Regions from separate parts of the Homo sapiens genome. Here region 2 is linked to region 1. The links come from fine-mapping of genetic effects on gene expression. A gene starts in region 1. The other region holds a variant in brackets. All regions are shown on one strand. Distances are between the middles of the regions. Region 1 holds the start of PIK3C2B (phosphatidylinositol-4-phosphate 3-kinase catalytic subunit type 2 beta). Region 2 overlaps PIK3C2B (phosphatidylinositol-4-phosphate 3-kinase catalytic subunit type 2 beta).

Evidence for each region.
Region 2: its variant is fine-mapped to the expression of PIK3C2B in whole blood (TOPMed, PIP above 0.99).

The regions. Positions count from the first base shown.
Region 1 is chr1:204,486,468-204,502,263 of GRCh38, forward strand. PIK3C2B (phosphatidylinositol-4-phosphate 3-kinase catalytic subunit type 2 beta) reads right to left here and starts at 8,338. Exons shown (of 33, transcript NM_001377334.1): 1 at 7,889-8,338. LOC124904584 (translation initiation factor IF-2) reads left to right here and starts at 5,284. Exons shown (of 2, transcript XM_047439554.1): 1 at 5,284-5,294; 2 at 7,709-9,265. The coding sequence starts at 5,284. The coding sequence ends at 8,729. RefSeq lists silencers at 6,379-6,458, 8,018-8,487 and enhancers at 7,528-7,717, 7,788-7,917.
Region 2 is chr1:204,450,033-204,465,828 of GRCh38, forward strand. PIK3C2B (phosphatidylinositol-4-phosphate 3-kinase catalytic subunit type 2 beta) reads right to left here. Exons shown (of 33, transcript NM_001377334.1): 3 at 15,187-15,287; 4 at 14,418-14,572; 5 at 13,980-14,100; 6 at 10,518-10,629; 7 at 10,292-10,371; 8 at 9,846-9,909; 9 at 7,696-7,842; 10 at 7,005-7,038; 11 at 5,824-6,019; 12 at 4,637-4,759. Among named protein-coding and RNA genes, the nearest start is that of PIK3C2B, 37 kb to the right of the region's middle. RefSeq lists enhancers at 3,096-3,205, 4,798-5,775, 7,283-7,784, 7,785-8,284 and silencers at 7,155-7,355, 12,169-12,463. The variant G/C (reference allele first, on the strand shown) is at 6,551.

The DNA.
Region 1 (15,796 bases):
TGCCTGTAATTCCAGCATTTTGGGAGGCTGAGGCAGATGGATCACCTGAGGTAGGGAGTTCAAGACTGGCCTGGCCAACATGGTGAAACCTCATCTCTACAAAAATACAAAAAGTAGCCGGGCATGAAGGCAGGTGCCTGTAATCCCAGCTACTTGGGAGGCAGAGGTGGGAGAATCGCCTGATCCTGGAGGACAGAGGTTGCAATGACCCGAGATTGCGCCATTGCACTCCAGCCTGGACGACTGAGGGAGATTCCATCTCAAAAAAAGATTACCTCTTATTTATTTATTAACACAGTTACCAACACAACTTTTAAGTAACATCCTTCATTTTTTGTTTGGTTTTTTGTTTGTTTTTGAGATGGAGTCTCGCTCTGCTGCCCAGGCTGGAGTTCAGTGGCACAATCTCCGCTCACTGCAATCTCCACCTCCTGGATTCAAGCAATTATCCTGCCTCAGCCTCCAGAGTAGCTGGGATTACAGGCACATGCCACCAGGCCCAGTTAATCTTTGTATTTTCAGTAGAGACAGGGTTTCATTATGTTAGCCAGGCTGGTCTTGAACTCCTGACCTCAGGTGATTCACCCTTCTCAGCCTCCCAAAGTGCTGGTACAGGCGTGAGCCACTGCGCCCAGCCTCTATGTTTGTTTTTTAAAGAGACAGGGTTTCACTCTGTTGCCCAGGCTGGAGTGCAGTGGTGCAATCATAGCTTACTGTAACCTCAAACTCCCCAGGTCAAGTGATCCTCCCACCTCAGCCTCTCAAGTAGCTAGGACTACAGGTGCACACCACCATGTCTGGCTAATTTTTAAATTTTTGTATAGATAAATCTCGTTCCATTGCTCAAGATGAACATTCTTACTTTTATCATTTCAACATGTATCTACAAACATCTCATTACATACAAAACATTCTTTTCCACTAAGCCTTTAAACCGCATGGATTACCTCGTATTTATCTTTGTCTCCCCCAGGATACTTAGCACAATGTTTTACACGAAGTACATGCTCCAGTACAGAACTGTTAATACTGTGTTCTCAGCGTGGTCTGACCAACCCAGAGGAGAAGAGTTAACAGCTCCTCATCATAGGATCAGAGGTTTGGAGGCTGTTTGAAGGCAAAATTGTAATGTATTTTTCCAAGTAGACACCCCACAGCATTTATCAGATTCTTAAGTTTAGAGATCTCCAAAATAATAAACACCACAGTTCTAGTTTCTATAATCTCTAGGAAATGCTGCCTAAGACTATATATTAAGACGCTGGGAAATGCTGCCTAAGACTGTATATATATAACTCTTGGGGCACCTTATCACAATCGATTCATATTGAGCTTATAGGATTACCCCACTCCATGAAGAAACTCATCCATTTACCTGCATTTTGGGTGGGAGGGGGGTGCAATGTGGTTCCCTCAAGGTCAGGGACCACACTCAATTCAAGGTTGTATTCCTAGAATTTAGCACAAACCTGCTATTGAGGAATAATAATTACAAGAACCATGAGCTGTTGAGTCACCATTTACATGCATCAGGCACTGCTCTAAGTAGTTCATTAATTAACTCATTTCATTTTACAACAAATTTTGTCTGGTATTATTATTTCCCTCATCTTACGTATGAGGAAAGTGATGCACAGATAAGTTAAATAACTTTTCCAAGGTCATACAGCTTGTAAGTGGTGGAGCCAGGCTTTGAACCCAAGTAATCTGGCTCCAAAGCCGTGCTCTTAACCATCTGCCGAACTTGCACTGCCAGTCATTTGATAAATGAGTGAATAAATGTAAGAATGAATGAGAAGAGGCACTGAAGATGTTTTTGCTGAATGAACAATCAACCAATCATTAACCCACCTTTTGTCTCTACCCTGTATAATCTATAGGATTATCATGAGAGTCCTTCTCAAACTTTCCTTGCATTCAACTAGAGAATCTCTCCAAGTAATTCCCTATCTATCAGTATAGAATTCCTGTCAGTAACATTAAAAAGCTTGGTTTAATTCTTAGTGAACTACTCTTAGTGGACTAAGAACTATGAGTGAACTAAGTTTTCTCAGAACACCAAGCACTAGGCAAGGGTTTTACCTGTCCTCTTCACTGCTGTGCACGTAGAAGAGTGTCAGTGCACATTCAATGTACAATGGTGGAATGAATGCCCAAAAGATAAAATGCAAACTCCTTCAGTGGCTCTGGCGAGATTAAACTGCTTTCAGTTCACCTCATTCACCACACTCCATTCCCCATCCTGCCCCAATTCCTACTCATTGTTCAGATCTCTGCAAACACTTAATTTCCTCCAAGAAGTCTGACCATCAAAAAGGCCCCACTGATGAGTTCACAAGGCAACCCATATTTCCCCCACTCAATGACTTAAAAGTACCTAAAGTCACTAGTAAACAATCAAGATGTTAGTCAAATTAATGAATAAATGAATGAGTTCCTTTTTAACATGATCTGATAGACTTAAACCCTTGTGATCCTATTGTCTTCCAGAAATGACTTTAAGAACCACTTGTGTCATTACTGGCTCTTGGGGAAGCTCCATCTCATTCAGGACTCGAGCCTCATGAACATTTTTTTTCTCACAGTCCCCTTCAGCATAGCACAGAAGGAACACAGGTTCTAGAGGTTTCCTGACCTAGACTCAAATTTTGGCTCCTCTCAAGTTAATTGTACAAGCTCTTTATTATTATTATTATTTTCAGAGACAGGGTCTCACTCTGTCACCCAGGCTACAGTGAAACCTGGATGCAATCAGAGTGGTGCAATTATAGCTCACTGCAGCCTCAAACTCCTGGGCTCAAAAGATCCTCCCACTTCAGCCTCCTGAGTAGCTGAGACCACAAGTGTGCGCCATCACACCCTAATTGTTTTTATTTTTATTTTTAGTAGAGACAAGGTCTTGCTATGTTGCCCAGGCTGGTCTCAAACTCCTTGGCTCAAGTGATCATCCCATGTCAGTCTCCCAAGTGCTGAGATTACAGCATAAGCCACTATTCCTGGCCCCTATCTTTTAATTTAAAAAAAAAAAAAAATCTGCCTCCTTAAAGTCTAGAGTGAAAATCTAATATCTCTGGCTACAATGTTCCTCTCCCAGGATCCCAAAACAACCCATTTGCAAACCACCTCCCTTTTCTTGGTGAGAATTAAATCCACTCTACTGGTGCTCGCAGTCACAGCAATTTCTTTCACTCTCTGGGAGACACACAGCATGGCGAGTCAGGAATGGGACAAACACTCTGCTTTCAGAAAATGAGGGCTCTTAGGGAGACGTCAATAGTTGAAGGGCTCCATCATTACTACTATCTGGGCTTTGCTTAGTTTATTACCTGAGACAAAAAGAACTCATACCTGATTCTTCTACCTGGCAAGGCAAACTGTAGTTTTTCCTCAAAATGGAATCCTTTTGGCCCTCTACTCTTCTTCCCTCATCCTTATAACTTACGGTTTGCTGCAAAGGACGCCATCTAGTATGAGAGAAAGAGAGAAAGATGTGGCTGGAGAGAATGCTTCCACTCAAGCTTCTTCCTGGTGGGCTTGGCTTAGCGAGGCTTGAGGAATGAGCCACGTGTGTGAAACAACTCTCTAATATTAGGCACCCACCTCTATGGTGGAACAGTGGCAGGAGTGACACAGTCATGATGGAAGGATAACAGTTTCCAAAGAGGCAAACAATCTTTGGCTTCTCTGAAATACTGTGAAGCCTCTGCTAGGTGAGACTTCCTACAGAGAGTTCTCAGGAAGAGGAAGGAGTGAATTGCTAAGGCTTCCTTCAGCCACAGGTCTTATTTCTGCTTCAGGACTACAGTGAACCTCTCTCTTCTTCCTTCTCTATACCCTGAGGGCCTCTGCTCCCCAAAGCACAAATGTCTTCTGATTCTTTAGTCTCCTTAACCAGGGTGATGATTTGGGGTGAGTGAATTCCATCCCAATGTCCCAGTGTTTTGGGGAAGTAAATTTCCCAAAGACAAAGCCACTAATTGGGTCGGCACGAAACTCCAAAGTGTTGCAGGATAGGTCCTTTCACGGGTCATGTTGTGATCTGCGGGGTAGGCGTTCAGTTCCAGCATTGCTACTAACTGCATGACCTTGAGAAAGTCACTTTTTCTCAGGGAAGTGATGGCCCAGGTCCTTTCCAGTTTTGATACTCTATGTGATCTTACAAAATGCAAGAACAAGCTGGGAGAGGTGGCTCATGCCCGTAATCCCAACACTTTGGGAGGCCGAGGTGGGAGGATCACTTGAGACCAGAAGTTCGAGATCAGTCTAGGCAACATAGTGAAATCCTGTCTCAACAGAAAAAGAAAAAAAAAAAAGGCAAGAATAGTCCCTCAAGTTTCATTTTATAAAACAGATGCAAAATAAAGCAGATATGAAAATACCAAAACAAGAAATCTGCCTTAATTTCCCCAGGATCCTCCAAGTCCCAAACCTTCTATTAGTGTTGCTCAGAAGGCAGCAATATGACTTGATCAGATTATCCCACATCTCTTCCTTCCTTGGAAGGTAGACATAGAAATAAAAATGCATAGAAAAGCAGATGAGGCCCAGAAAAATTTATTATGCCTACATGCCCATGAGATGTCCCAGGCTGGTGACGTCTCATGGGCATTCAAGGAATCCATTAAGAATGAATTCTGAGGCTGGACATGGTGACTCACACCTGTAATCCTGGCCCTTTGGGAGGCTGAGGCAGGTGGATCACCTGAGGTCAGGAGTTCGAGACCAGCCTGGCCAACATGGTGAAACCCTGTCTCTACTAAAAATACAAAAAATTAGCCAGGCATGGTGGCACACGCCTATAATCCCAGCTACTCGGGAGGCTGAAGCACAAGAATCCCTTGAACCTGGGAGACGGAGGTTGCAGGGAGCTGAGATGACACCACTGCACTCCAGTCTGGGTGACAGGGTGAGACTCTGTCTCAAAAAAAAAAAATGAATTCTGAGGCTGGACATAGTGGCTCATGCCTATAATCCTAACCCTTTGGGAGGCCAAGGCAGGAGGTTCCTTTGAGGCCAGGAGTTTGAGACCAGCCTGGGCAACATACTGAGACCCCATCTCTACAAAAACTTAAAAAATTAGCCACATGTAGTGGTGCATGCCTATAGTCCAAGCTACTCAGGGTGGGGACTGAGGTCGAAGGATCACTTGAGCCCACTGCACTCCAGCCTAGGCAACAGGGAGAGACCCTGTCTCAAGAACAAACAAAAAGAATGAACTCCACAATTTTGCTGTCCCTTTCTGTTCTCCCAAGACCCAATATCTCTCTGAGTAGCACTGAGGCTATGAACACAGGGTAAGGAGTGAGACTGCTTGCTTCAAATCCCACCTCTATCATTTACTAGCTGGCTGACATCAGTGAGTGTTAGTGATTACATTACTTGCCAGCTCAGCATTATCCTCTCTATAGGCAGTAGCCAGCCTTTGGAAGGTGTTTATCCCTCCTCAATTCCTACAAATATCATGAGGCATCCTTTCCTTCTCTCCCAGTTCCCATCCTGCCAACACTATTTAAAGAAAAATACCCAAGGAATACAGCAGTTACCTTGGTATTGTCACACTACTCTTTCCTTAGCAAGAAAGAAAAGGTCCCAAAACATTCCCTACTCCATGTGGCCCTCAGATCCCACCCTATCCCCATCCCTCACAGATCTCCCTCCCTTATGTGGGAGGCTAAACCCAGTAAGAATAATCATTTGTAAAGTACTCTGTAGTTTTCAGGGTACTTTTGCACACATGATTCTGTTTAGTTCTTGGTAAGCAGCATTTCATTATTAATCCTGTGAGCCATGGCTACTCCCCCACCTCCATTTTACAAATATACAAACTAAATCTTAGGTCCACAAATTGTCTGTGCTCACATAGCTAAAAAGAAAGTCACACCAAGACACTGTTTTCTCTACTACTTCACATTATGATGTCCAAGTTCACATCCTGGGAACATGAGGAGCCTGAACCTTATAGCTAGTTACAAGCCCCTAAAAGGAACAGAGACCTCATTTTTCTACCCACTGGTCCAGGCCAGGGCCATCCCAGCTGAAGCACCACAGACATGATATAGATGCAAAGCACCAGGCACAGGAGGAGTGGGGACACCACCAAGCGGGGACCAAAGGCCCACGAGGGTATAGAGTATCTGCCAGAGCATACTAGGTCATGACAAAGACCAAAGGCATTCCAGACCACCAAGGAAGTCCAAAGGAGCTCCCCCAGAAACAGCCCAAGTCCCCAGATAAACTGACCCTTCCTCACCCAGCACACCCCCTTGGCCCTTTCTCACTCATGCTTCCAGTGGAGAAGGAAATAGACAAGCAGCCGGGTCTGAGAGCTTGATCAGATTCAGCCATACACACTCAGCAGTAAGCTCAGAGCCATGGCAATCAAACCTCAGGCTCACCCAAAGGCCAAAGGAGAAGCAGCCACAGCCTGGGTCTAGGGCTCCAGCTCAGAGCCACCATCTCTTCAGATGCTGGCTGCCAAGCAGAGCTATAAAATGTGCCTCGACTTAATTTTTCCATGGACACAACCTCAAGATGGGCCAGCCAGACTCTGGAGGAGCTGGGATTCCAAAGTCTCACTGCCTGTCTGCTCTGGGATCGGCAGCTGGAGTTGGGGAGAGGGAAGTATTTGGGGGTCGGCATTGCCACCTCCTGGGCCATTTCTCTTCCTAATATCTTCCCAAAGCCTGATGCAGCAACAGAGTAAGTTTTCATTCAGCACTGATTCAGGGTTGGAATTTAGTACAAATTGCTTACATCTGCCTGGCCATATCCCAAATAGGTAGTTTAGAGCAAGGAGGAGGGGCAGCATTGGCCCACTTCTTGGAGCCCGGGTAGCCGCCTGCTAAAGAATCTGGTGCCATGCTGGGACCAGCCAGCCCAGGGTACAAAACTCTCCAACAGAGTTGAGAAAAAACAGCCCAAGAGAGCTGCCAGAGACAATACAGCGATTCCATCCCAGGCATGATTGGAAGGGCTGGGGCAGGGAAGCTACGAAGACCCCAGAAGCGGGTGGAGAGGAGAAAAGGCAGGCCTGAAGGAGCAAGAGCAATGGCAGAAAACACACACACACACACACACACACACACACTTCAACATCAGCCAACTAGGGTGTGTGCACTAACCTCATACATTTGGTAACCTCTTCCCACAATCCAGAAGCCTGCCAAGCCCCTGGGCTCCCCACCCTACTCCACCCCACACCAGCTTGGCAGCCTTGCTTGTGCTTCCTGCTGCGATTGCTCCTCCAACATCAAAGTCACCGCTGTCGGGAGCTGAAAATGAGGGACAAGTATAGGCCAGGAGAGCAGCGCCTTCTCCCAGCACCGGCGAACTCAGGCCTGAGGGTCCCTCTCCCTCTTTCAAGCTTTCAGTCTCCTTTTGCTGCAGTATCCTTATAAGGGAGAATCCAATTCTACCCTCCGCCCGACTAAGAAACGTACACATTCCCCAGGCTAGATGCCGACTTCTCACCCAGTCCACAGAAGGCACTAACCCCATCACAGGACAGGTTTTGCTTTTTTTATTTCTTATCTTAAATAAACAAACCCCAAAGCCATTGACTGGTTCAGATCGCCCTGCAGCTGGGAGCCAGGAAGTGTGTTTAGCGAGAAGGGGGTGGGGACGCGGGTGCCTGGAGCCCCAGAGGCCCTGAAGCTGCTGGAGTGGAGTGGAGTGGGGTGAGGGGCAACCTGCTCTGCCCGGCGGGCAGGAGCTCAGGCTCCCACGGCGTCCGCCGCTCAGCCCGCCGCCAGGAACCCTCGGCTGCTTCCATTGTTGCACCTCCGCTGTTGCCATGTTGGAGGGAGAGCCCCCTGACCTCGGCTGCCTCCACTCTGGGGGCACTTTACAGACGCTGGGGCCGATGCAACCCGCAGGATGCGTGTCCTACCTGCGCTAGCTGCTGGCTCTGCTGCAACATCCGACGTGTCTTGTGCCTGGCGACGTGGGCTGCTCGCTCCGCGCCTCCCGGGCTCGCTCTGCGGCTCCAGGCGCCTCTTGCACCAGCGCGAGAGGAGCTGGCCGGCCGCACGCCGCCTGCTCCCGGGCCGCTCCCCTCTCCAGGCTCCGCACAGACCCTAGGCTCCAAGGGGCAGAGGGAGAGGCAGCAAAGGGCGCAAGGACCAGCTTGTGGGGGTGGGGAGGGGTGCTCTCCGCCGAGAGCGTGCGCGAGCTCGCAGAGTCAGGCCACCCCGGGTGAGACAATAGCGGCAGCAGCGGGCGAGAGAGGGGAAGCCATCTCCCGGACACCCGGCGCACTGCACGGCGACGCGACGCTCGGCCAGACCCTGCCTGGACAGGCAGGCACCCGGCCGCCGGCTCCAGCCGCAGCGCCGAATCCGCCGCGAGCCGGAGGGCGGGGCGGCTGCTGGAACCCGGGCCGCCCTTCGCCTCTCCCCTCCCCTTCCCCCTCCTCTTCTCTTCTCCTCTCCTCCTCTCCCCTCCGACTCCCGCCCCACTTGCCATTGCGTGGGGGAAGAGAAACGCGCTGGCGTCAAGTTGTGCTCTGCAACCCAAGAGCCAGGATTTCCACTCCCCACTTGGGTGAGGGTTTTTGCGGATGGTCGTTAGTTTCCCCTGCTGGAACCCCTTGGCTTTGGGTCAGAGGAAAGCTCAATCATTCTGCTAGAAATGACGGTGCTGAGGTCCAGTTATCCGTTTCAGGAATTTCTACCATAATTACGGTAGCGATGTTCGGGGGATCCCCTACCTTGAGGGTTAGGTTGGGGTAGAGAGAGGCTGTCTCCGGGCTTTACACGCTCAGTGTCATTCGTCTTTCTGTCTCCTTCCTTCCTCCCTTTCTGGAAGGGGAGTCTCGTTTGTTTTTGTATTCGCCCAGGTGGATCTTCCGAGCTGCGATCCAGGAAACAGCAGTCAACCTAAGTAGGGAGGGGAGATAGAGGATCCTCCAACCCAACTAGGGTAGTGAGAAAAAAAAGTAAAAAAAAAAAACCTTTCATACAATATGTTATATTTAAATTTTCTACTCTAAATACCTTTCTTCCAGCAGTGGTCTCTGGAAGAATTTTCCTAAAGGCTCCACCCAAAAGAAACCATGAGTTGGCCAGCTCCTCGTTTGCATTTGGTTTGCATAGTACCAACGATCACTAATCTCAAAGTATATTTTCCTAAAAACGTGAATCGTGTTTTCCTCCACTGCCCTCATTTCTTCTTTCTTTCTCGACAGACTATGAAGATTAACACCTGGTCCTCAGCCTCTCAAGTAAAACCATGATTAAATAAATTTGTTATGCTTTTCTCTGGTTAACTTGTCTTTTGTTATAGAAGTGTCGGCTGTGACTCTTATGATGGGGAGGAAAGGGATCACTCCCCTTTCTGATCCTACAGTGCCTTCTGTACCCAATGCTTGTGACTTTCAGTATTCCACTTCACCCTCTGAATATCAAGAATAGCGTCCTCACCTATCACGCTTTCGTAATGATCAAAGGAGAGAATGTAGGTGAAACATCTTGATAATTAACTGAAGGCAGCTTGGTCTGCACATATGTCATAATGTATATGATGCTACTCCTGATCTCAGGAGCCACAGGGGTTAAAAAACGTGTCCGTGCACTTCTTCACCATACAAATATTTATGACAGCTTACTCTGTGTCTGTCATCAGGTCAAGCTCAGGAGCCTGAGAGAACAGAGTGTTACAGGGGCCACTGGTGGTTCTTTTTTTTTTTTTTTTTTTTGAGACGGAGTCTTGCTCTGTCGCCCAGGCTGGAGTGCAGTGGCGTGATCTCGGCTCGCTGCAAGCTCTGCCTCCCGGGTTCACGCCATTCTTCTGGCCCAGCCTCCGGAGTAGCTGGGACTACAGGCGCCCGCCACTATGCCCAGCTAATTTTTTCTTTTTTTTTTTTTTTTTTTTTGTATTTTTAGTAGAGACAGGGTTTCACCGTGTTAGCCAGGATGGTCTCGATCTCCTGACCTTGTGTTCCACCCACCTCGGCCTCCCAAAGTGCTGGGATTACAGGCGTGAGCCACCGCGCCCGGCGACCACTGGTGGTTCTATGCTGCTGGGGTGAAAAGTCTGAAGGAAAGAACTAACAGGAAGTAGGCATAGGTAGCTGAGTGGAGGATCAGATCACAGGCTTTATCATGCATTTTGGTAAGGAAAAAATTGAATAAAGAGAAACCAGGGCATGCCAAAAAGTTTAGGTGCTGTAGGTGACAGAGAACCTGCTGTGCACAAATGGAACTGGGAAGTAGTGTGACCAGAAAAAGACTTCCTGGCATATTATAGAGAAGGATTTGGAAGATGCACTGCATGTCTTCCGTTTGCCCCTCCAGATCTTCCTGGCCCTCTGGCTTCCTAGACTGGGTTGGCCAATGGGGGCCATGGCTGAAGATTGAATAAGGAGGGAGGTCAGGGGAAACTGGATATTTATTCTTCAGGATTCCTCTCTTTGGGGTCACAGTGCGCTGGCTGCCACCCTCAACCAAAGATCACAGCTTCCACGGGTGGTTCTCTCTCCCCTCCCTCTCTCTTTTGTTTTTCTTTTTTTCTTTTTCTTGAGACCGAGTCTCACTCTATTGCCCAGGCTGGAGTGCAGTGGCTTACTGCAACCTCTGCCTCCCGGGTGCAAGCGATTCTCCTGCCTCAGCCTCCTGAGTAGCTGGGACTACAGGCGCATGCCACCATGCCCGGCCAAATTTTTTTTGTATTTTTAGTAGAGACAGGGTTTCACTTTGTTAGCCAGGATGGTCTCAATCTCCTGACCTCATGATCCACCCTCCTCAGCCTCCCAAAGTGCTGGGATTACAGGCGTGAGCCACAGTGCCAGCCCCCTCCCTCTCTCTTGATTCAGGTAATCACTCCCCTCCTTTGACTTTTCGGGCCTGGGGGTGGAAACATTGATTTGCTACTGGCCCTAGTAGATTGTACACTATTTCTTGTGGTTTTCCTGTACTCCGCCGACCCTTTATAAATTGTCCCCTTATTTTTTAACCTCTCCTCAAATTACCCCTCAAGTGCAGTGTGCCATTTGCTTTCTGCCAGGACCTAGTAACACAAGTCAGGAGTGCAGCCTGGGAGCTCAACAGAGAAACCATGGCTACGTTCCAGGTGGGAAATCAGGGAATCTCAAAACTGTGCCAGAGCTGTGGCAGTGGGGATGAAAAAAACGGAGCAGATACAAAAGATACTTATAAAGAGAAATCAATAGTATTTGATAAATATATAAAATGTAGGAAATTAGGGAAGAGGAGGACTCTGGAATTACTCCCCATTTGAAGCCTTAGAAATTGTTGGCAGGTGGTACCATTCCCTAAGTTAGGGACAATTAGAAAGACAGGGCCCAGGTGTTGGCAGAGGGATCTTGAGCTTAATTTTGAACATGTTGGGTTTGAGGTATCTGTGGAATGTCTAGATGGGGATGTCTAGTAGACAGCAAACTTATGAAACTAAACTCATATTGGGGTGTGAACAAGTGATAGCAGCTTTGGATTCTGTAGGTTATGGGTAGTCAGTGAAGTTATAAGCCTGTATGAGGTCGTCCAGATGGGCATAAGGAGGAAAGAAGAAACAACCAGAGAGGTAAGAGAAAAACTGGAGGCCACAGAGTGTCAGAAACTAGGGTGGGAGAATCTCAGAAGAGAATGACTGGATAACCAGTGCAGCAGGAACCTCCAGGAGGGTAGGCTAGAAAATGCCTCCAGTGGATTCTAGGCCTAATTCATTCCCTGATTCAAAGCTGGTGCTCAATAAATTATTGGTCACTAAGTGAATGAATGAACCTGGATCTGGAATAAAAGACACATGCTTTTTCTAGAAGCTTGGCAATTTAAGACAAGGAGAAATATAAGGCAGTGGGTAGAGGGGAATGCAGGATCAAAGGGGAGACTTTTGTTTTTTCTTTTTAGGATAAGAAAGGCTTAAGCATTTTCATATGCTGAAGAGTAAGACCAAGGAGAGCGAGATCATGAATAGGAGGGAGTTGGGACCCAGGTATATGGGGTGGAGCTGCCTCTGATATCTTTGAGAGGAAGGCTGTACAAAAGCAGAGGCATCTGTAGACTGGTAAAGAGACTAGAACTTGAGACTAGATGTTGAGAGGACTAGTTGCTGCCTTGTAGTCTCTAAGCAATCTGCTGAGAGAGAAAGGCTCAAGATGAGGTTAAAGGCTTAAAGAAAGTGGTTAAGGTTGCTGGGCACGGTGGCTCACGCCTATAATCCCAGAACTTTGGGAGGCCGAGGTGGACGCATCACCTAAGGTCGGGAGTTCCAGACTAGCCTGACCAACATGGAGAAACCCCGTCTCTACTAAAGATACAAAAATAGCTGGGCGTGGTGGCGCATGCCTGTAATACCAGCTACTCGGGAAGCTAAGGCAGGAGAATCGCTTGAACCAGGGAGGCAGAGGTTGCGGTGAGCCGAGATCGCGCCATTGTACTCCAGGCTGGGCAACAAGAGTGAAACTCCATCTCAAAAAAAAAAAGTGGTTAAGGTTAAAATAGAAAGGAATAAGGAATGAGAGTGGTAGCTCCAGAGAGAGGAGAGAGAGAGAGAATTGTCAGCAGAGTTGAAGATACAGCTGGCATTGGATACTCTAATATGTTGTGGCTATGAATAAAAACATCCGAATGTTTTCATCATTTTCTTCTGCAGCACTTGGAAGCCCAGGTGTAGAACATGAGGTCAGGTTTCCAAGATAGGTACAGTAGAGGCATAAAAGGAAAAGAGGGCTCCTGACAAAAGAGGAAGTCCTCAAGGACGGAAGTGAAGCTCAGCAAAGGCTGTGAATCTTCAAGAAGCGGGAGGAAAGGGACTGAGCTACCTCTAATCTTATTCCCCTTCCAATCTTTTCTCAAGTAACCCAGCCAGGGTGATGTTTCCAAAGCAAACATCTGCTTCTCCTGCTTAAAATCAACTAACATGTAGGACATGGCATTTTTTGACTTTGGTTTTTAAACATCTGTATTCTCAGAGCCTAGAACAATGCCTGGCACTTGTGCTCACAAAATTTTTGGCAGATGAATTAATGCATGACTTTCTCTAACTCTTAAAGTCCAATCTCCTAAGGAAACTCTGAATTCTCTCACAGTCAGCCCTTGCTTTTCATTCTAGCCTCAGAGAACAAGGACTTTGTCTTGTGCATCCCTGCATCTCCCAAACTGCACCCACCACATAGTATTCAATAAATATGTATTGAATGAATAGCCTCCCACATTCCAATGTAAACTTCATACTTGGGCCTTACGAAACTCCCTACAGTTCCTAGAATGCACAATATTCTCACCTAACGGCCCTTCCACATGGTTTCCTGGAAAGGGCCTCCTACCTCCAATCCCCACCTCTACCCGCTTCCTTTTATGCAGCTGTCTCTCTACATGGTAGGCAGAATAATGGCCTCCCAAAGGAGGAAATGTCCACTTCCTAATCCCTGGAACCTATGGCTGCATTATTTTACAAGGCAAAAGGATTTTACGGATGTGATTAAGTTAAGGCCCTTGGGAGTGGAAGATTAGCCTGGATTATCCAGGTGGGCCCAATCTAATTACGTCAGTCCTTAAAAGCTGCAAACCTTTCCTAGCCGAAGTCAGGGAGAGATGTGATGACGCAAGACTGGTTGGAAAAATGCAACATTGCTGGCTTGAAAGTTGAAGCATGGAGGTCCTGAGCTGGAGGGGGTGAATGGCCTCTAGAAACTGGAAAGGTCAAAAAACAGATCCTGCCCTAGAGCCTCCAGGAAGGAACATGACCCTGCAGATACTTGATTTTAGCCCAGTGAACCCCATGTTGGGCTTTTGATCTGCAGAACTGTAGGATAATAAATTTGTGTTCCTTTAATCCACTAAATTTGTGGTCATTTGTTATAGCAGCAATAACAAACTAATACATCCTACAACAAATTCTCTGCAAAGTTTCCCTAGAGTGCCTCCTAAGAGTGTCTAGACACACCCAATAGCTACTTGGATTATAACACTGATCATGGGTGTTATATATAATTGCTTGTCCACTTTTTTCTGAATTGGGGAGGGGACAGAAGAGGAGGGCAACGGACTGTAAGCGCCTTAAAGACAAGGAATCTCCATTATTTTTACCTTTGAATTTCTAGGCCTAATTCATTGCCTCATTCAAAGCTGGTGCTCAATAAATTCTTGGTCAATAAGTGAATGGATGAAAACCTGGATCTAGTTTACAGGAAGACAGAGTGACTGAGCCAGAAAATGAAAAGCTTGAGAGTCTAAGATTTCAGTGGTGACCGGGTGTGATGGCTCATGCCTGTAACCCTGGCACTATGGGAGGCCTAGGCTGGTGGATTGCTTGAGCCCAGGGGTTCAAGACCAGCCTGGGCAATATGGCAAAACCTCATCTCTACAAAAAACACAAAAAATTAGCTGGGCATGGTGGTGTGTACCTGTACTACCAGCTACCCAGGAGGCTGAGGTGGGAGGATCACCTGAGTCCAGGAGGTCGAGGCTGCAGTGAGCCATGATGGTACAACTGCATGCCAACCTGGGCAACAGAGTTGAGGTCCTATCTTAAAAAAAAAAAAGATTTCAGTGGTAATAATAAGTAGATTACTGGTGAGGGAGCAAATGGCTGAAATCAATGGAAGGAGATGATGGTAGAATCTGTTTATCTGTGCTATATTCTCTCATAGGTCTGCTCTAGGCTAGGACTAATCTGTAATACAACTCAAAACTAATATTTTGAAAGACAGTATTTATAACAATTTTATTTTAAAATCCTTCAGTAGGCTTTCTTCAAAAATATTCAAATATCTTTGAAAGATGATTGGATGTTAGAGATGGGGTGGGGTGCTCTGTAAATATTTTATGTATAGATTGACTTCTTCAATCCTTTGACTCTTACTGGCTTTGAAATCAGTCCTACTTCTTCCCTACACCTTTTCAATGATCCATGACATTTGAGGGCTGCATTGTTTAGGGAGTATTTATTCCAGTATCTGAGCTCTTGATGCTATGTAAGATTCTTGGGCTCAGCCAGGCATGGTGGTTCATGCCTATAATTCCAACAGTTTGTGAGGCTGAAGCAGGAGGATCCCTTGAGCTAAGGGAGTATAAAAGTAGCCTGGGCAACATACCAAGACCCCATCTCTACGAAAACATTTTTAAAAAAAATTCACCAGGCATGGTGGTGCATGCCTGTAGTCCCAGCTACTCTGGAGGCAGAAGTGAGAGAATCACTTGAGCCAGGAGATTGAGGTCACAGTAAGCTATGATTGCAACACTGTCTCAAAACAAACAAACAAACAAAAACAACCTGTACTATACATCTTCTTAGTACCTTGTGATGGTGTCAGCTCCAAAGACTCTATGCACTATACTGTGGCGATAGAAGACTGGGCCCCAGAGTAGGTAGCTACGACTTGGTGTTGGTTTGGGGAACTCTGGGAAGGAAGGGTCCACAACTTTCCCCCTCTGTGCCTAGCTCACTGCTGTGGAAACAGTGGGTAATCAGATTGATGGTGATTTTTTTCCAAAGGCAGTAATTCTGATGAGAAGGAGGGTAAAAAACATCCCTTTAAAGATTATTATAGTAGGGATCAACAAAATGAAAAGGCAACATACAGAACGGGAGAAAATATTTGCAAACCATATATCTGATCAGGGATTAACATACAAAATATATAAGGAACTCATAAAACTCAATAGCAAAACAAAACAAAAACAAATAACCAGAATTTTGTTTGAATGTGCAAAGGACTTCAATCAACATTTTCCCAGAGAAGACATACAAATGACCCACAGGTATATGAAAAGGTGCTCGACATCATTAATCATCAGAGAAGTGTAAGGCAAAACCATAACGAGATATCACCTCACAC
Region 2 (15,796 bases), 36 kb before region 1:
AGTCAAATTAGGAGGGGCCACTCCTGTGGCTTCAAGCAACAGGTGGCCCAGGAAGTCAGGCTGAGGCTGAGGCTGAGGATACAGCCTCCCTCTCAGGGTTCAGACATACTCCCTGAGGAAGCCCTCCTCCTGCAGAACCAGGAGAGGTCCCAAACTAGGCAAAACCCCCACTGGATGTTCCCAGAAGCACAATGTGGTGTCCTTGGAGCTTTGCAGTAGAGTGAGGCGAACATCCCGATTTTGAAGCTACCCGTGGTGCCTGGACAGAACTTGCTTAGCAGAGCCACCTCGGAGTTCAGGTGATGACACGTCCCATGTTGTCAGCCTTGCTCCTTTCCTTGTTTTAGGATTTCCGCAGAGGGTCCGCAAAGCTACTCCTTTTGTCCTCCTTTTCCATTTGACAGTCTCCATCCCTCCCCCACTTCTTGCTGCTGAGAGCCACCAGGAAGAAGCACCATGTTCTCTGCCCTCGGTTCACCCTCCCCCACAGCCCTCTCACTTGTCCTCATAGGAGTCCCCTTCACCTAGCCCCAGGGACACACACTGGGTTTTTCTCACCCCCACCCCCAAACAGCTTCAAAGCCAAAGGGACAAAGAGGAGGGGTTTCTCCAAGTACCCCAGTGGTGAGAAAGCCAATGGCAGGGCCAAGAGAACTGAGACACATAAGCCCCACCACTATTCAAGCCCATAAGTTCTCTCCAGGTCCCTCAGTCTGAATCACACCTAGCCACTCCCTCTAAGCTCAGGATAAGGAACTGCTGGGTGGGGTGAAGTACACAGGGGAGGGGAGCTGTGGAAAGGCAGGGAGGACCCACGTTACCTTTCGGGGAAGCTGTCCCTGGGCCAAAGTCCATACTGTCACACCCTCCTGGCCAGCCCAGGGCCCAGCAACTTCTATGCCAGAGGGCGCAGAGGCAGGGCGGCCACCCCCAAGGTTGGCAGTTTCATGATAAAGCAGCCTGCCTCCACCGCTGTCCTCCAGAGGAATCTCCACCTAAGTGAGGCACTCCCTCCAGCCCACCACAGACTGGCAGAGCCCTGCTCTGTCCCAGCTGCCTCTACCCTGGGGGCCCACAGCTATAATTAGGGCCCCTCCAGCAGCCAGCAGACATGCCAGGCCAGGGCTTGGCTGGAGGTGACAAAGCACGGCTGCTGAGCCTATTTTGAGAGTTAGCTGATCCCTGGACCGCTACAGTGGGGCAGAGAATCAGCTGACCCCATAGCAAAGGGGAGAGGGAGCTGGTCCTGAGCCCTTTCTTTTCACCCAAGGAAGAAGCTTCCAGCTTCGTGTCTTAAGGAAAAGGGGAGTGAGAAGACTTTATGAGTGAAACCAGAGCCAGCCAAGGCCCTCTTCCCTTCAGTCCTTGGGTATATCTGGTATTCCACAACCTCTCCCACAGATCTTCACCCAGGGCTGGTCAGGATAACCATTATGTTGGCTGCAGCCCTTACCTTCCTCCCTGAGAAGCCCCTCTCCTTCCTGCAGCCCATTCAACAACCTCATATCACACAGGCTGCCTCCTCCAGGAAGGATTCCTGGAATGTGCTGGTTGGCTCCAGTCCCGGTTCTGCCACTCACAATCCTGGGCAACTTAATTCCCATCTCTGTGCCTCAGTTTCTCATCAGGGAAAAGGGGAACATAGCTTCACTTGCATGATGTGTGTGCAGACTGTGTACTTTTTGCTATGTGATGCTGTGGTTACTGCACTGGCACTGGCTTATACAGATAGTATTTTCATGCGCACGTATCCCCATGTATCAGCCAGTCTGTCAGTCACTTGGAACAGAGAAACCAAAACCAAGAGGGCTCCCCAGCTAAGAAGCCTGTGCCAAGTACTTTATTTACAGTGTCCTAACTGCTCCTCAAACAATCCTGTAGGGTAGGCCCTATTATCGCTACCATTCTAGGTTGAAAGACCTGCCCCAGGCTGCAACTACAGTAGGAAGGAGAGAATGACTGGCCCAAAGACTGTCCTCTGAACGCTGGCACGCCTTCCCCCAAATGTCCTGGTCTTGACCATGAAGGGCCAAGAAGTCTCATTCGGGGCTTCTGGATGGACAGTGCAAGATAGTGCCCTTCACAAGGCGCTAGGCAGGGGACTGCCCCTTTAAAATTCAAGGTGGGGATCTCAGGGAACAAAATGAAACTCATGGGGCAGGCTGGGCTGCCTCTCTACCTCTGATACTGTATGAGTAAAGGGTTTAAGGCCAATTTTTTAAAGTTCCTCCTGGGCCAGAACACTGTGCAGCACCCTTTTTTTTTTTTTTTTTTTTTTTTTGAGACAGGGTCTCGCTCTGTTGCCGAGGCTGGATACTCACTGCAGCCTTGACCTCCCAGGCTCAAGTGATTCTCCCACCTCAGCCTCCTAAGTAGCTGGAACCACAGGTGTATGCCACCACACTTGGCTAATTTTTTGTATTTTTTGTAGAGATTGGGTCTCCCTTGTTGCCCAGGCTGGCACCCCTTCTCTTGACAGCAGCAGTAATTGTGACCAAAAAATCCCAAGGGAATGGTGGAACTCAAGGGCCATTTAATGCAGCTATCCTCTGCCTGCAAGGAGTTTCTCCTGTCCTGGCAGTTGTTTGCTTGAGGACCTTTAATGCACACCCCATGTCCTTTTTTTTTTTTTTTTTTTTTAAGATAGGGTCTCACTCTGTTGCCCAGGCTATAGTGCAGTGGTGTGATCATGGCTCACTGCAGCCTCGACCTCCCAGGCTCAAGTGACTCTCCCACCTCAGCCTCTTAAGTAGCTAGGACTACAGATGCACGCCACCACACTCAGCTCATTTAAAATAATTTTTTAGTAGAGATAAGGCCTCTTTGTGTTGCCCAGGCTGGTCTCAAATTCCTGATCTCAAGTGATTATCCCGCCTTGTCCTCCCAAAGTACGGTGAGACTACAGGTGTGAGCCATCGTGCCCAGCCATATACACCTTTATTGCTCTAAGAATTACCTAAGTGTGAAGGGCATGAGAAAGGGTCCATTTTCCCAGTTGTCCATCTGTAAAAGGACCCACCTCTTCCAGCATCTCCAGATTCTTCATCTACCTATTTTGCATCCTCGGCCTCCCCAGGACCCTCCTCAGTCTCTTTAATCTGTGCTACAAATACTTAGCTTGCAGTGCTGCTCTGCAAATGAGGACTCTAATATAGTCAGTGTGGGGAAGCAAAGCCGGGGGCAGCAAACAGGGGATTTTCTGACTGACTGGAAGGAAGGTAGAGCATAGCACAGATGAAGCACAGGGCAGGAAAACCCCTGCGGTGCCCCCATTCAAGCAAGGCACCCTCTCCTCCGTTTCCTTCCTGCTTTGCTTGGCTGACGCCTACCTTCCCGACACCAAATTATTGTTTACATGTGGTGATTAATATTACCTTGTGCTTTTGGTTTCATATTTATATTTATAACCCACCTATCTCATCTCGACGCCATAACTGCCTCTGAGTGAAACCAATGTCCCCATTTCTCAGTTTGAAAAAATGAGGCACAGAAAGAATAGAGAGAAAGTAGTATTCGAGACAGAGCTAGAAATAGAGGCTCACTCCTGGGAATCCAAGCTCAATATTCTTTCTCTAGACAACCCTCCCTTCTCTATATATAAAGGGAAAAGCACAGTCTCCTCTCCATAGTCTACAGGAACTGAGGGAAGAAGGGAGAGGATGAGAAGCCCTCCAACTAGTTAAACTCTTTAAGGGAGACAAGATCAAAAAATAAAGTATTATTAAAATTAACAACTAACATTTAATTTTTTTTTTTTTGAGACAGAATTTCGCTCTTGTTGCCCAGGCTGGAGTGCAATGGCACGATCTCAGCTCACTACAACCTCCACCTCCCGGGTTCAAGCGATTCTCCTGCCTCAGCCTCCCTAGTAGCTGGGATTACAGGCATGCGCCACCATGCCCGGCTATTTTGTATTTTTTTTAGTAGAGACGAGGTTTCTCCATGTTGGTCAGGCTGGTCTTGAACTCCCTGCCTCAGGTGATCCGCCCGCCTCGGCCTCCCAAAGCGCTGGGATTACAAGCGTAAGCCACCGCGCCTGGTCAACAACTAAAATTTATATGTTTTTTATGGTTTACAAAGAGCCTTTATAGATACTTCTCATTGGATCCTCATGACAACTTGAGAAGTGGTAATTATACTTGGCTCCTTTAAGAGTCAGGGAAGTGGAGGCCAGGCGTGGTGGCTCACGCCTGTAATCCCAGCACTCTGGGAGGCCGAGGCGGGCAGATCACGAGGTCAGGAGATCGAGACTATCCTAGCTAACACATGGAAACCCCATCTCTGCTAAAAATACAAAAAATTAGCTGGGCGTGGTGGCGGGCGCCTGTAGTCCCAGCTACTCGGGAGGCTGAGACAGAAGAATGGCGTGAACCCAGGAGGCAGAGCTTGCAGTGAGCCGAGATCGCACCACTGCACTCCAGCTTGGGCAACAAAGCGAGGCTGCCTCTCAAAAAAAAAAAAAAAAAAAGAGTCAGGGAAGTGGAGACTCAAGAGGTTGAATGACTTGTCCAGTTAGGGTTAACAAGGAGCCTGGTTTTATCATTAGTCCTGGACTAGTTATCTGGCCCCAGGGATATTTCAGAGGCTGAGCAGGTCTACAGTGGCCTGGGCACTGAAGCCTGGGGGAAGGGCTTACTGCTGGTCCCAGACGATGAGGTGGAAGAGGTACTTGGAGAAGTGAGCTCTTCGGGTCTGCAGGGGGCTGCACAGCTCCTTGCCGCCATGGCTGAGGGAGCAGGAGAGGTAGAAATCTTCATAGCTATAAAAGAAAGGGAGCAGGTCAGGACACCCAGCTCCCAAAACCAATCACCCAAACCTATGCGTCCCTCTAAGGCCAAAATCCATTTCCCCTGGTAAAACTCTCAGTCTCTGAGGGCTGTAACACAGGATCTCCGGATAGGACAGCCAAACTGGATGTAAGGAAATGTGCTCAGGCCAAAGCAACTCAATCTAGATTCCTCTGCTCGGTTTTAGGCTCCATTCTGAGCCTTGTTGTTTTTCTTCCTTTAATGGGAACTGGCCACCCAGCCTCTTTATAGAAAGCTCCAGCCCATGGAGCGTCTGTGTGTGCGTGCGTGTGTGCGCGTGCACGTGCATGCGCAAGTGAGAAGGGTGGGGGAGGAAGACGACATATGCCGACATGAATGCCAACACACGGGGGTCCCTGTGGCTCATGACAGGTGCCTGACAGAAGAGGTCAGAGAAGGCCCCGGTTTCCCAGGCTGCCTCCTTTGTTCTCTGCCAATCGCCCAGAGGAATACATTAAGTAAGGAACAAAGAGAGAAGGGGAAGGGGGTTGGGGAAAGGGGACCGGCAGGGGCGGGGTAGGGCCCAGTGCCTATTCCCTCAGGCCTTGGATGCTGGGGACCCAACAGAGGCGCTGAGGATTTTACCAAAAGAACATCCTCCTCCACCCACCCCTGCAGGCCTAGAGAACCCCAGACAAAGGGTCAATCCCACCTCCCCACCCCCTCCCACTGGCCAGGGAGCGTGCACTCTATCTGGGAATCGGCCATCTGTTGCCATGTCTCCTTCCACTGGTCTTGGATCTGGAGGGGGCAGGGATGCAGAGGCAGCCAGCACCAAGAGGGAATAACAGGATCTTCTTCATCTCCTAAGGGACCTCCTCTCTCCTCTAGGATGTCCCCAGCCCAAGTCCTCCTCAGGCACTTGGCTCACCCCCGCAGCCCCATTGCACCACAATGTCACACAATGCCACACATCCTAAGACTTAGGACAGTGGTATTACATGCAGATAGGAAAAAGCCCTGGTGGAGGTCAAACTCAGCTTGCTCCCTAGCGGCTACTCAGCCCTGGGCTCACCTGGTAGCCCAGATGATGGGGATGCGGTGGGTGGCATAGACAGTGAAGGCCAGGGACCTGGCGAAATGGCAGGCCTCCTGGACCAGGTCATGCTTGCGGCTCCCGGGCACTGCCGTCTGGAAGTCTGCGTTGAATGTGTTGCAGTACAGCTCCACCAGGTCCAAGATGGCAGCGGTCAGGGCTTCCACGACCTTCTCTGGGAAGGGAAGGGGTCAGAAGGGAAAGTCATGAGGCCTCCACAAGCCCTACCTTGTTGCCATGGCATTGGCTAGAATGGGATGGCCTAAGACAGTGGTCCCCAAATGCTAGTCAGTCTCTAATAGCTGTGACAAAGTTCACCCATCTGCGGTAAAATGAGAAAAAAGCAGAAGCATGTCATGAGCTTTTCATAAAATGACAGTTATACAATGTTAAACATAATCCTTATTTTTACGTATTGCTACTTAGCATTAAAATGTCCTTTCTTTTAGGAAACAGTGTTAATAATTATTGTCAGTTGCTTCAAAAAAGCAAAAGTCAAAAAAGTTTGGCCAAGTAAAAGGCTGCCAATTCTCTCTTGGTCCCCCAAATACTTTGGGGGACATTTTACTGGTCTATGAAATCCAAAAGACTGGGAATCACCATAAGAATCCCAGGGATGCCAAAACAAAAAACAAAACCAAAACAAAGGAATCCCAGGGATATAGGTCAGTCTTAGGGCAAAGTTCAGCTTGAAGGGCACAACAGG[G/C]GAATCCTAGAAAAATCGTAGGGAAAATTCTTTCTCATCCTCTCCCAAGGCCCACTCTAAATCGGAAAGGTAGCAAGTGTGAGCTGTTGGGAGAATAATCACAATCTACCCAAGTGGGAGGCTTCCCATCTGGATCACAGGGCTAGTGCTGCCCCACCACCCCACTCCCACACTTCTACCCCCTCATCATCATCTCCCAGGGACACCAGGAGGAATGACTAGGAAAAATAATAAGAAAACACTTTGTGGAAAGAAATGTGCTCTCCAGCTGTATCCACACCTCATATAGGAACACACACACACACACACACACACACACACACACCCACACACACACACACACCAGCCGAACTCCGACACATAAATCAAGGGGCCCAGGCAGAAAAAGGAATCGGGGCAGAGACTGCAGTTTTCGGCAGCCCGACTGGATGAAGATGGAGAGCAGTTCCCTTACCTCGGTTTTCCCTCACAGCCAAGACACTGGGATCCTGTTGGGAAAAAGAAGAGGGAGGGGAGCTTCAGGGCCATAGCCTTTTTCGTCACAGCTGGAAGAAGGGCTTTTCACAGCTGCGCTCATCTGGACCAGAATGGGCTGAAATGTGAGTAGCTGAGAATCCCCAGAGAGGAGAGAGTAATGGTTTGTACCAGATCTGTATGATGGACAGAGTGAGCTGACGGAGGATAGCAATCATCGGGTCCACCCTTCTGAGATATCCCAACCCTCAGGCTACTCGGCTGCAGATCACAGTGCCTATGGTGCTGGCCCTGTCTGCAGAGCACACAGCCCCTGCTGGAGTCCTGGAGCCCCTGGCTCTAGAGAGATTTTCCTCCTGGTTTGTTTTTGCACCCTGATGGATATGCAGACTGTCAGGCAATGCCTTGGTGACTGTGAATAAAGCCTTTACTGGCCTGGGCTCTCAACAAGCAGTCCCAGGTAGCTCTCCCTCAACCTCAGGAAGAGGAGACACACTTGGCATCCATTTCTGAAGAGCTCTTGCGGTTGAATTCCTTAAACATAAAAGATGGAGGTGGAGAGAAGCCCCTTTTTAGTGAGTGAACACCTACACACTCTAGCAACAGGCAACTCAGTTACCTGACAGTATCCCTCTCTTCCTTTCCCCTGCTAGCACCCTGGGCCCCTTTACCTTCTGAATTTTAGGCTGCATGCGGGAGGGGCAGGGGGGCAGCTGGTTGAGAGCACTGGTGATCTCAGGGGTTTCCACGGCGGCCAGGGCGTTGCAGATGGCCTTGACGGACTGGACCACCCTGTCAGCCTTCAGTGGGAAGTCTCCCTGTGGGAGGTGGCACAGTGAGGCTGGCAGGCTCTGCTCTCATGCTCTTGGTCTCCAACCCCTCCCCACCCCAGTCTTTAAAGGAAAGGGTTGGGAAGAGTAGAGAGATTCATGATCCTCAGGGGTAAATGTGCAATACATTTTATTTTCAAATATTCATCATCAGCAAATAATCTCTCCCACTGAATTCAATGGGCCATGCCCACATGCCCCAATTCTTTCAGCCGTTCCCCTTGAAGCTCCTCCTATCTCTAGCCTCTCTCTATAGTTAGTCTACTTATACTATACACATATATACAGGGTCTCTCCCAGAGACCTGTAGAATTTCCAGACAGATCTCATCTCATTTCTACAGACATGCCACAGCCATAACCTCCCCTCTGGAATTATGCTCCTGGAATTCCCTCACCTGTCCAGCTCTGATTACCTATGTACATTTAAATCACAGAGCAGCTAAAATTCTACCTCCTGCATAAAGCCCTCCCTGGCCAATCCCCTTCCTCTAGCATCCTCCAGGAGCCCTTAATTAATTTATTACCATCCTGTTCTGTCTACTAATAGCTTTGTGTTACTATTCAATTTTTCTAACAAGAACACAAGCTCCCCAAAGGCTATGACAATTTTTTTTTTTTTTTTTGAGACGGAGTCTTGCTCTGTCACCCAGGCTAGAGTGCAATGGCGCGATCTCGGCTCACTGCAACCTCTGCCTCCCGGGTTCAAGCAATTCTCTTGCTTCAGCCTCCTGAATAGCTGGGATTACAGGCGCCTGCAACCACACCCAGTTAATTTTTGTATTTTTAGTAGAGATGGGGCTTCACCATGTTGGCCAGGCTGGTCTCGAACTCCTGACCTCAGGTGACCCGCCCACCTCAGCCTCCCAAAGTGCTGGGATTACAGGCGTGAGCCACCGCACCTGGCCAAGGCTATGACGATTCTTACACTTCTCTACCCATCGTAGCCACTAGCAAAGGGCCAGAACAGCACAGCACAGGTGTTCAGAGAGCTTCCCCCGCATCACTGGAAATGTTCAAGCACAGGCTGCTGGAGAAGGGATTCTGGCAGTGACTAGACATAATGCTGAACCCCTCAAAAAGGAAGCGTTTATGACTACTATTAACTGGATCAATGAGACAGGGATTGGTTTTTGTTTTGTTTTTTGAGATAGGGTCTCACTCTGTCACGCAGGCTGGAGTGCAATGGTGTGATCATAGCTCACTACACAGCCCCAAACTCCTGGGCTCAAGCGATCCTCCCACCTCAGCCTCCAGAGTAGCTGGGGCTACAGGTGTGTGCCACCATACCTGGCTAACTTTTGTATTTTTTGTAGAGATGGGGTCTTGCTGTGTTGCCCAGGCTGGCCTTGAACTTTGGGGTTCAAGCAATTCTCCCACCTCAGTTTCCCAAAGGGTTAGGATTACAGGCGTGGGCCATCACACTCAGCAAGGGATTATTTTTGAAGATCACTGTCAGATTTTCTTTGGCGTTGTGACATTTAAGACAAATGTTGACTCTCATGGTTTTGAGGCTTGAGACTCCGCATGAATCCAAGTGGGGAGGGCTCTGGCCCTCCCTACATGTGAAACCTTCTACCTCCTGATGGTTTCCTACCTGCGATAACAGCAAAACAGAACCTCTCAAACTGGAGGTTTCTGACATTGCTCATAGGATGCATGCTCCAGTGTACATCAAGTGCAGCAGCTGGGGGGTGACAGCTCTAGGTTCCTTAGCTCTGGAGACATCCTATTCCAGAGAATGGGACCAGCATGCAGTTTCCGACCTGCTTCTTCTATAGAGGAGCAGAATCCCTGACTACGCACTTGCCGTTGCCCAACATCTAGTAGTCTTAGTTTGCCCATGAGCGAGGGGTTAAAAAGAAGTGCTCTGCCAACAGATTTTCAGGCTCCACCCAGACCCCTCATAGTGCTGGGTGATCCCAGGAGGACTGAGGAAGGGGAGAGGAGGAGCTTTCGGGCAGCAGGGCCAGCCCCTGGATTCGTACTCACATCAGCCAGCAGGAAGGCATCCACCTCATTGTGGTAAGTGTCGAACAGAAGACTCAGGGCCTGCCTGGGAGTTGGGGGCAGGGAAAAACCACAGGAGAGGTCATGAAAGACCCAGTGCCCTGGGAAACCCATTTTCTCCCTCCCTCTCCTCAGCTCACACTCTGATTTAAAGGAGTTCCCACTCTTTCTATATGTCCTGTGAAGACATATAGAGGGAGAGTCTTTCTATTCTGCCACTTCTCGCCTGGAGAGAATGATGGCAAAGTTCCAGAGGGAAGAAATGAAACATGCCTGGAGTGGGGATCTTCTCTGATAAGATGTGTGGGCCCCAACCCCTGACACCTGCAAGAATCCCTTAGCCCTGACAGAAAGGCAAGCAGGCACATCTGATGGGATCCCTGCACAGTTCTTGTTTGGAGCACATCCAAGATGGTGCCCACACTCACCTGCTGATGGTCTGCTTGACAGGCCTCTCTTGGAGATGGACGAGGTAGTTCAAGGTGGAGGGGCTCTGGTCATCATTCACCTGTATAAGAAGTGACCTATTCAGAGAGGGGCGGTGCCCTTATCTCAGCTCAGCACTCCTACCCCCCTCCCACCTGATGTGTTCTATATTGTATTCCCATTCCACCTCCCCAGCCCTGGGCAACCCTCCACCACCCTCACACGAACCGTCCGGGCCAGGTCACTGCGCACAACCTTCTGCTCCATCAGCTGTAGCCGAATGTCAATGTCAAACTTGCGGCAGTATTGGATGTACTCATGACTGCCCAAGGCATGCTTGCTGGTAGGGTAGAGGGACAAGACCATTAGCATCCTGGGGACTCAGTGGCAAGGGAGATACATACCTTAGCCTTGGGGAGAGACATACAGAAAGAAGGTTTAGGTAAGGGGGTAGTACCCGTGTTGTACCCTACTTTGGCTCCTAGAAAATGACACGGTAGAGCTTAGGAGAAGGAACAGAGGTCTATCTAAACAAAAGCCACCTAATATACTTAATCCTTGGCCGGTATAAATATTGACTCTCTTAGATATTTATTACCCGTGTGGTAATCACTGGTTCACTCCAGGGCTGGGAACTGTTGGAGAGAGCGGGGAAACAGAGGCACATCACAGGGAGCAGTTGCTGAAGCCCTATCTTCTGGGCCTCTGTATAGGGGACAACCAGGAAGAGACATGTTGGAGTCCACCTGTGCTCAGGCTCCAGGGTGGGAGCTCAGCGAGAGACCCCTCTTCCAATGCTACCAACTAGGGTGCTGAGGCCAAAAAAACTTGGGGCAAGCCTACCAAGCCTCCAGATCAGTGTCCCCACCCAACTTCTTTTTCTGCCTTCCATCTGTTGGCCCTGCCTGCTTGTGAATAACCTTACAAATTTCTATGACTTCTTGAAAAGTCCCAAATGCATGCCAGTCCCACCTGCTCAAGCACCCATGTGTGAGACTCCCCCTTTCAGAGAGAAGGCCTAGGAGCCCTCGGCGATCCAACCTCTTCCTCTCTCCCAAATCACACCTTCAACAGCAAGGAAACCCAAGAGGAGGGGCAGAGGGAGAACTACCTCCAGGCCAGCACTGCAGGCCTGGGCCTGGCCTCAGCAGCTGGGTAACAGAAGCCGGAAAAGGACTTCCTTCCTCAGCAGAGCTGGGAATCTAGGCCAGAAATGGAGAGGAGAGGACAGGAGCATAAGGGGGGCAGTATATGTAAAAGCTGGCGGAGGTGCAGGGCCCAGGGTCGTCTAGGTCCCATGAGGGCTCGAGTGAGGGGTTCTCCACATCCTGAGAGGACCAAATCTCCGATCTAGACCCTCTCAGATCTAAGACTGAAGTGCAGCCAAAACCTGGAGGTGGTGAGGCTGGGCTGTGGGGCTGGGCCTGGTGGGAGAGCCTGGGAGGAAGGAAGAGTGTGGTGGGGCTGGGGGAGGTGGCAGGAAACCCAACCCTCCCACGGGACTGCCTCAAGGTTCTTATCTGAGAGCAGCCTGCATCCTGAACCCACTCACCCCCTCAGTATCAGCCCCTCCTGCCAGGCAGGGGTAGAAAATCTCAGGGCTTCCTTGGGAACTAGCAGATTTCTGGAACCCCCGGAGCGTCCTTTCCACCCCCATCCCAGGCAGTTGTCATGTGTTGGGGGTCTGGGGGCTGGGCCAGGAGACAGCATTGTGCTTTTCTGTTGGGTGGGAGTGGGGCTCCTAGGCCAGGAGTCATGCACACAGGTCCCCTGGGGACTTGCTTGATCTTCTCTGTGGAAGGCCTTCCTCTCTGTGCATTCAAGTGAGAGTATGAGGGGTGTGATCTGAGGACCGCTGACCCTGTCCCACCTCACTAAGAATATTTCACCTGAGTCTTAGCAGGAAGGTAGAACTTGACAGCTCCCACTACCTCCGGACCCAGGGGCTCCAGGATTTGGGGTGCTGCAAGGGAAATGGCAGTATCTGTGCAGCCCAGAGCCCTAGGACTTCTCTCCGTGGGCTGCTCCTTCCCTGCTGGTATTTACTGATTGCTCACAGGTCATTCTCACATTTCACCCTCACTGCAGCTTACAGAGGGCCCTGAGCATCAATCAGCCTTCACAACTAGTAAGTGGCAAGTCCGAATTCAAACCTGTGTAATGGCGTCAGCAGGAGCTCCAACTTATCCACTATGTCCCCTTTTTCCCTTCTAACAGTGGCAGGCCACCTGGCACTCTCTCTGCCAGGCAACCCTGAGTCTAGGACCCCTCCTGTTCCTCTAGGGGAAAAGTGTGTACATAAGTGAGTTTAAAGGTGGGGCACATTTGAAGGGTACCCTGGAGTTGTACCATACAGAACCCTGCCTCTTTCCTTTCCCTTAGCTTCGAGATGAGGAGGCAGAGGCCAGAAAGGACCCCACAATATCCTTAAATTTGAAATAAGCCCAGATAGCTGGGCACAGTGGCTCACACCTGTAATCCCAGCACTTTGGGAGGCCAAGGCGGGCAGATCACCCGAGGTCAGGAGTTCGAGACCAGCCTGGCCAACATGGTGAAACCCAGTCTCTATTAAAAAATACAAAAATTAGCCGGGCGTGGTGGTGCTTATGCCTGTAATCCCAGCTACTCAGGAGGCTGAGGCATGAGAATCGCTTGAGCCTGGGAGACGGAGGTTGCAGTGAGCTGAGTGAGATGGCGCCACAGCACTCCAGCCTGCACGACAGAGTGAGACTCTGTCTCAAAAAAAGAAAGAAGTCCAGAAATGAATCTTCCATCCTGACTGCCAAATCTTATGCTCTAGACATAGATCAACCATCCTTGCATCTAGACCTGAATGTAAGAGAGAGAAAAAGCAAGCAGTGGCACTTATAGGGCACTCCTAAGAAGTGAGACACAGGTCTCTCCTTTCTCTATTCCCAAAACGTGCTTCCTCCAAGTGGACAGAGACTGGGGGCAGGAGCGGCTCTGAAGCCTAAGAGAGGAAAGCAGATCTTATCTGTCTGCTGTCACACAGCTGTACCATCTGAGAAGTGATAACCTTGCCCCTGCCTCTCTTCCACTGCAGCCCTCCAGAGCCCAGGGTAGTGGAAAGGGGGTTGCCTCAGCTGGTCCACATCAGACTTTCCAGGGAGGCTGCTTTCCAGAGAGGGCACTGGATGGAGAGGAGCTGGAGGCACGCCTTTGGGAGGAGGATAACTAGCTGCACGGGCCAGCTGGGGAAAAGACTTGTTGGCAGGAGAATGGGGAGAGACAGTAATTGTAATTTCTCCCCTGGGCTCCACAAGGGAACTTCTGCCCAGTCCTCATTTTGCCCCAGCCATAAAAACACCACACATAATCTAGAGCAGGAGATACAGCACTACCCATATAGTCTCCCCAAGCCCACCCCTCCCCACAAATACACACATCTCTCCATAAGCAGAATCTGCAAGCAGATATGACCTAGTCTTTGCCTAATCCCAGCTCCAAGCTCTTTCCACAGCAGACTTGGCTCAGGACGTCAGCCAACCCTGCTGGAAGACAGAGCTCCTGGGGAAAGTGCTACGTGGCCGAGAGTGTGCCCAGAAAGCAGGAGTCTTGACTGTGGGATTGGGGCGGAGCTGCCAGGCCGGTCCCAGCACCAATCCCATGAAGCCCCCTCACAATCTTACTACCAGGAAGGCAGGGGCTACCTCCCACCCATTCACTCACTTCTGCAGGAACTCCTCCAGCCCGCAGGGCTTTAGCACAAAGTCACCCACGTCCACATTCCTCAGGTCATCATGGGTGTAGCACAGGGTCTGGTAGATAAGCAAGTCTACAGTGGAGGAACCTGTGAAGGGTAAGGTAGGGGGAGCAATCATGATGGATGTCAAGGCAGATGGGTCTCAGTTTCCCCACCCTGATCCCCCTTTCCAGCTAAGTATTCTCCAGCACCATCACCAACCAGATAAAGCAGGCAAGTAGTTCAGAGTTGAGGAAAGTGACTGTACTAGAATGCTGGCCCCATAGCCAGCCCCTCACCCCCAAAGGAGCATCCTCACTGCCCTTCATCTGGGCCACAAGATGAGGTGGAAATCGAGTCAAAACACAGTCATCCCCACCCCACTTCAAGGGATGCTCACATCCTCTCCCCCCTCACTAACTTACAGTTGCAGGTGAAAGTGAGTGCCTCTTGAAGCCTGTCACACAACACAGTCACCTTCAGGTTGACCTCATCCCCGAGGTGCTCTGGGCTAGGGGTGACAGCACTCCAGACATAGCCAGTGAGGAAGTAGTCTTGGATGTCAGAGCCAGATCGAAGGCTGTACAGGAAGAAAAAAAACCCTCACTGTGCCTTTAGAAGAGAGTAGTCAAGAAGACATCTGTTGGGAACCTCATGCTCTGAGGCTCAAGAGCCCCTCTGTCCCCACTCAGCCCAGCCCTCCAAATTTGCAGGCCAGGATGGGGGCAGTGGGGTAGCAGCTCTGAGAAACCCCCTTCTTGACACTTCTCTTATAATTGCAAAATGTTTCCCACCATTGAACAGTACAAATAGTTCTAAAATGACAAAGCTTTCCATGCTAAGTTTAATGGAAAATTTTTTATGAATCCATTTCCTTTCTCTTTTAGTTCCAGATAACACTCTTATCGCCAGCTGGGGTGCATTTGCTCTTAAGGGCAACTGAGGGTCAGACTCTAGAGTGATCAGGATACTTTGACCATTCAATGGAGGTTTCATGAATTTTGCTAAAAATGTGAGACTTCTAAGATTTCAAAAACCCTGCAGACACTTGTTGTAGGAAGCATTTTCATAGCTATGAACTGAGATTTACTTATTATGGTGCTTCTTCCCTCCTAAAGAAAGTTTGGAAATGGATGGCCCCCCTCCCCATCCCCCATAGCCCTCCCAAATCCCACCCCATTCTTTAACTCTTACATATCCAGCATGTGGCAAAATGCAGCAACCTCCTCATCTCTCTCTTCTGAGACCTCAAACAACTCATGGCCATTGGCAACAGTGTGGGGCCGGGAGCCCACCTTTAAGAGAAGAGCAGACGACTCAGTGCCTTTTTCCTCGTGGTGTCCCCTCCCTATGAGGTACTCCAGACCTAAACTCAAACTCTAGATGAAAAGACTTTCTAGTCACTCGACATCCAATGAAAGGGGCACAAGAACATATGGGACATCCGGGAATACATGTATCTGCTGTCCTAGGAGACCAGGAGCCAAGTTGAAGAAGGAGGCGAAGCTCTGGCTGAGATGGACAAGAGTGTGGCCAAAGCCACTTCAGGAGGGGACAGTCTGATAAGCGTGAGGCAGCCAGTAAGGCAATCCAGTGCTGTTGGGCCTCTCCTGCAACACGGGCTTTCCGGGGGATTCTCCCAGAGGCGTGACAGGGAGCAGAGCAGACAGCTGTTTTTCCCAGCCCCTCTACTGAGGCTAGAGCAGGTGGGCGGCCCAAATGGTGCCCAGGGAAGCTTGGCCCTGGTCTAAAGCCTCAATATCCACAAGCCCCATGGACCCAAAGCAGAGAGAGACCCAGAACC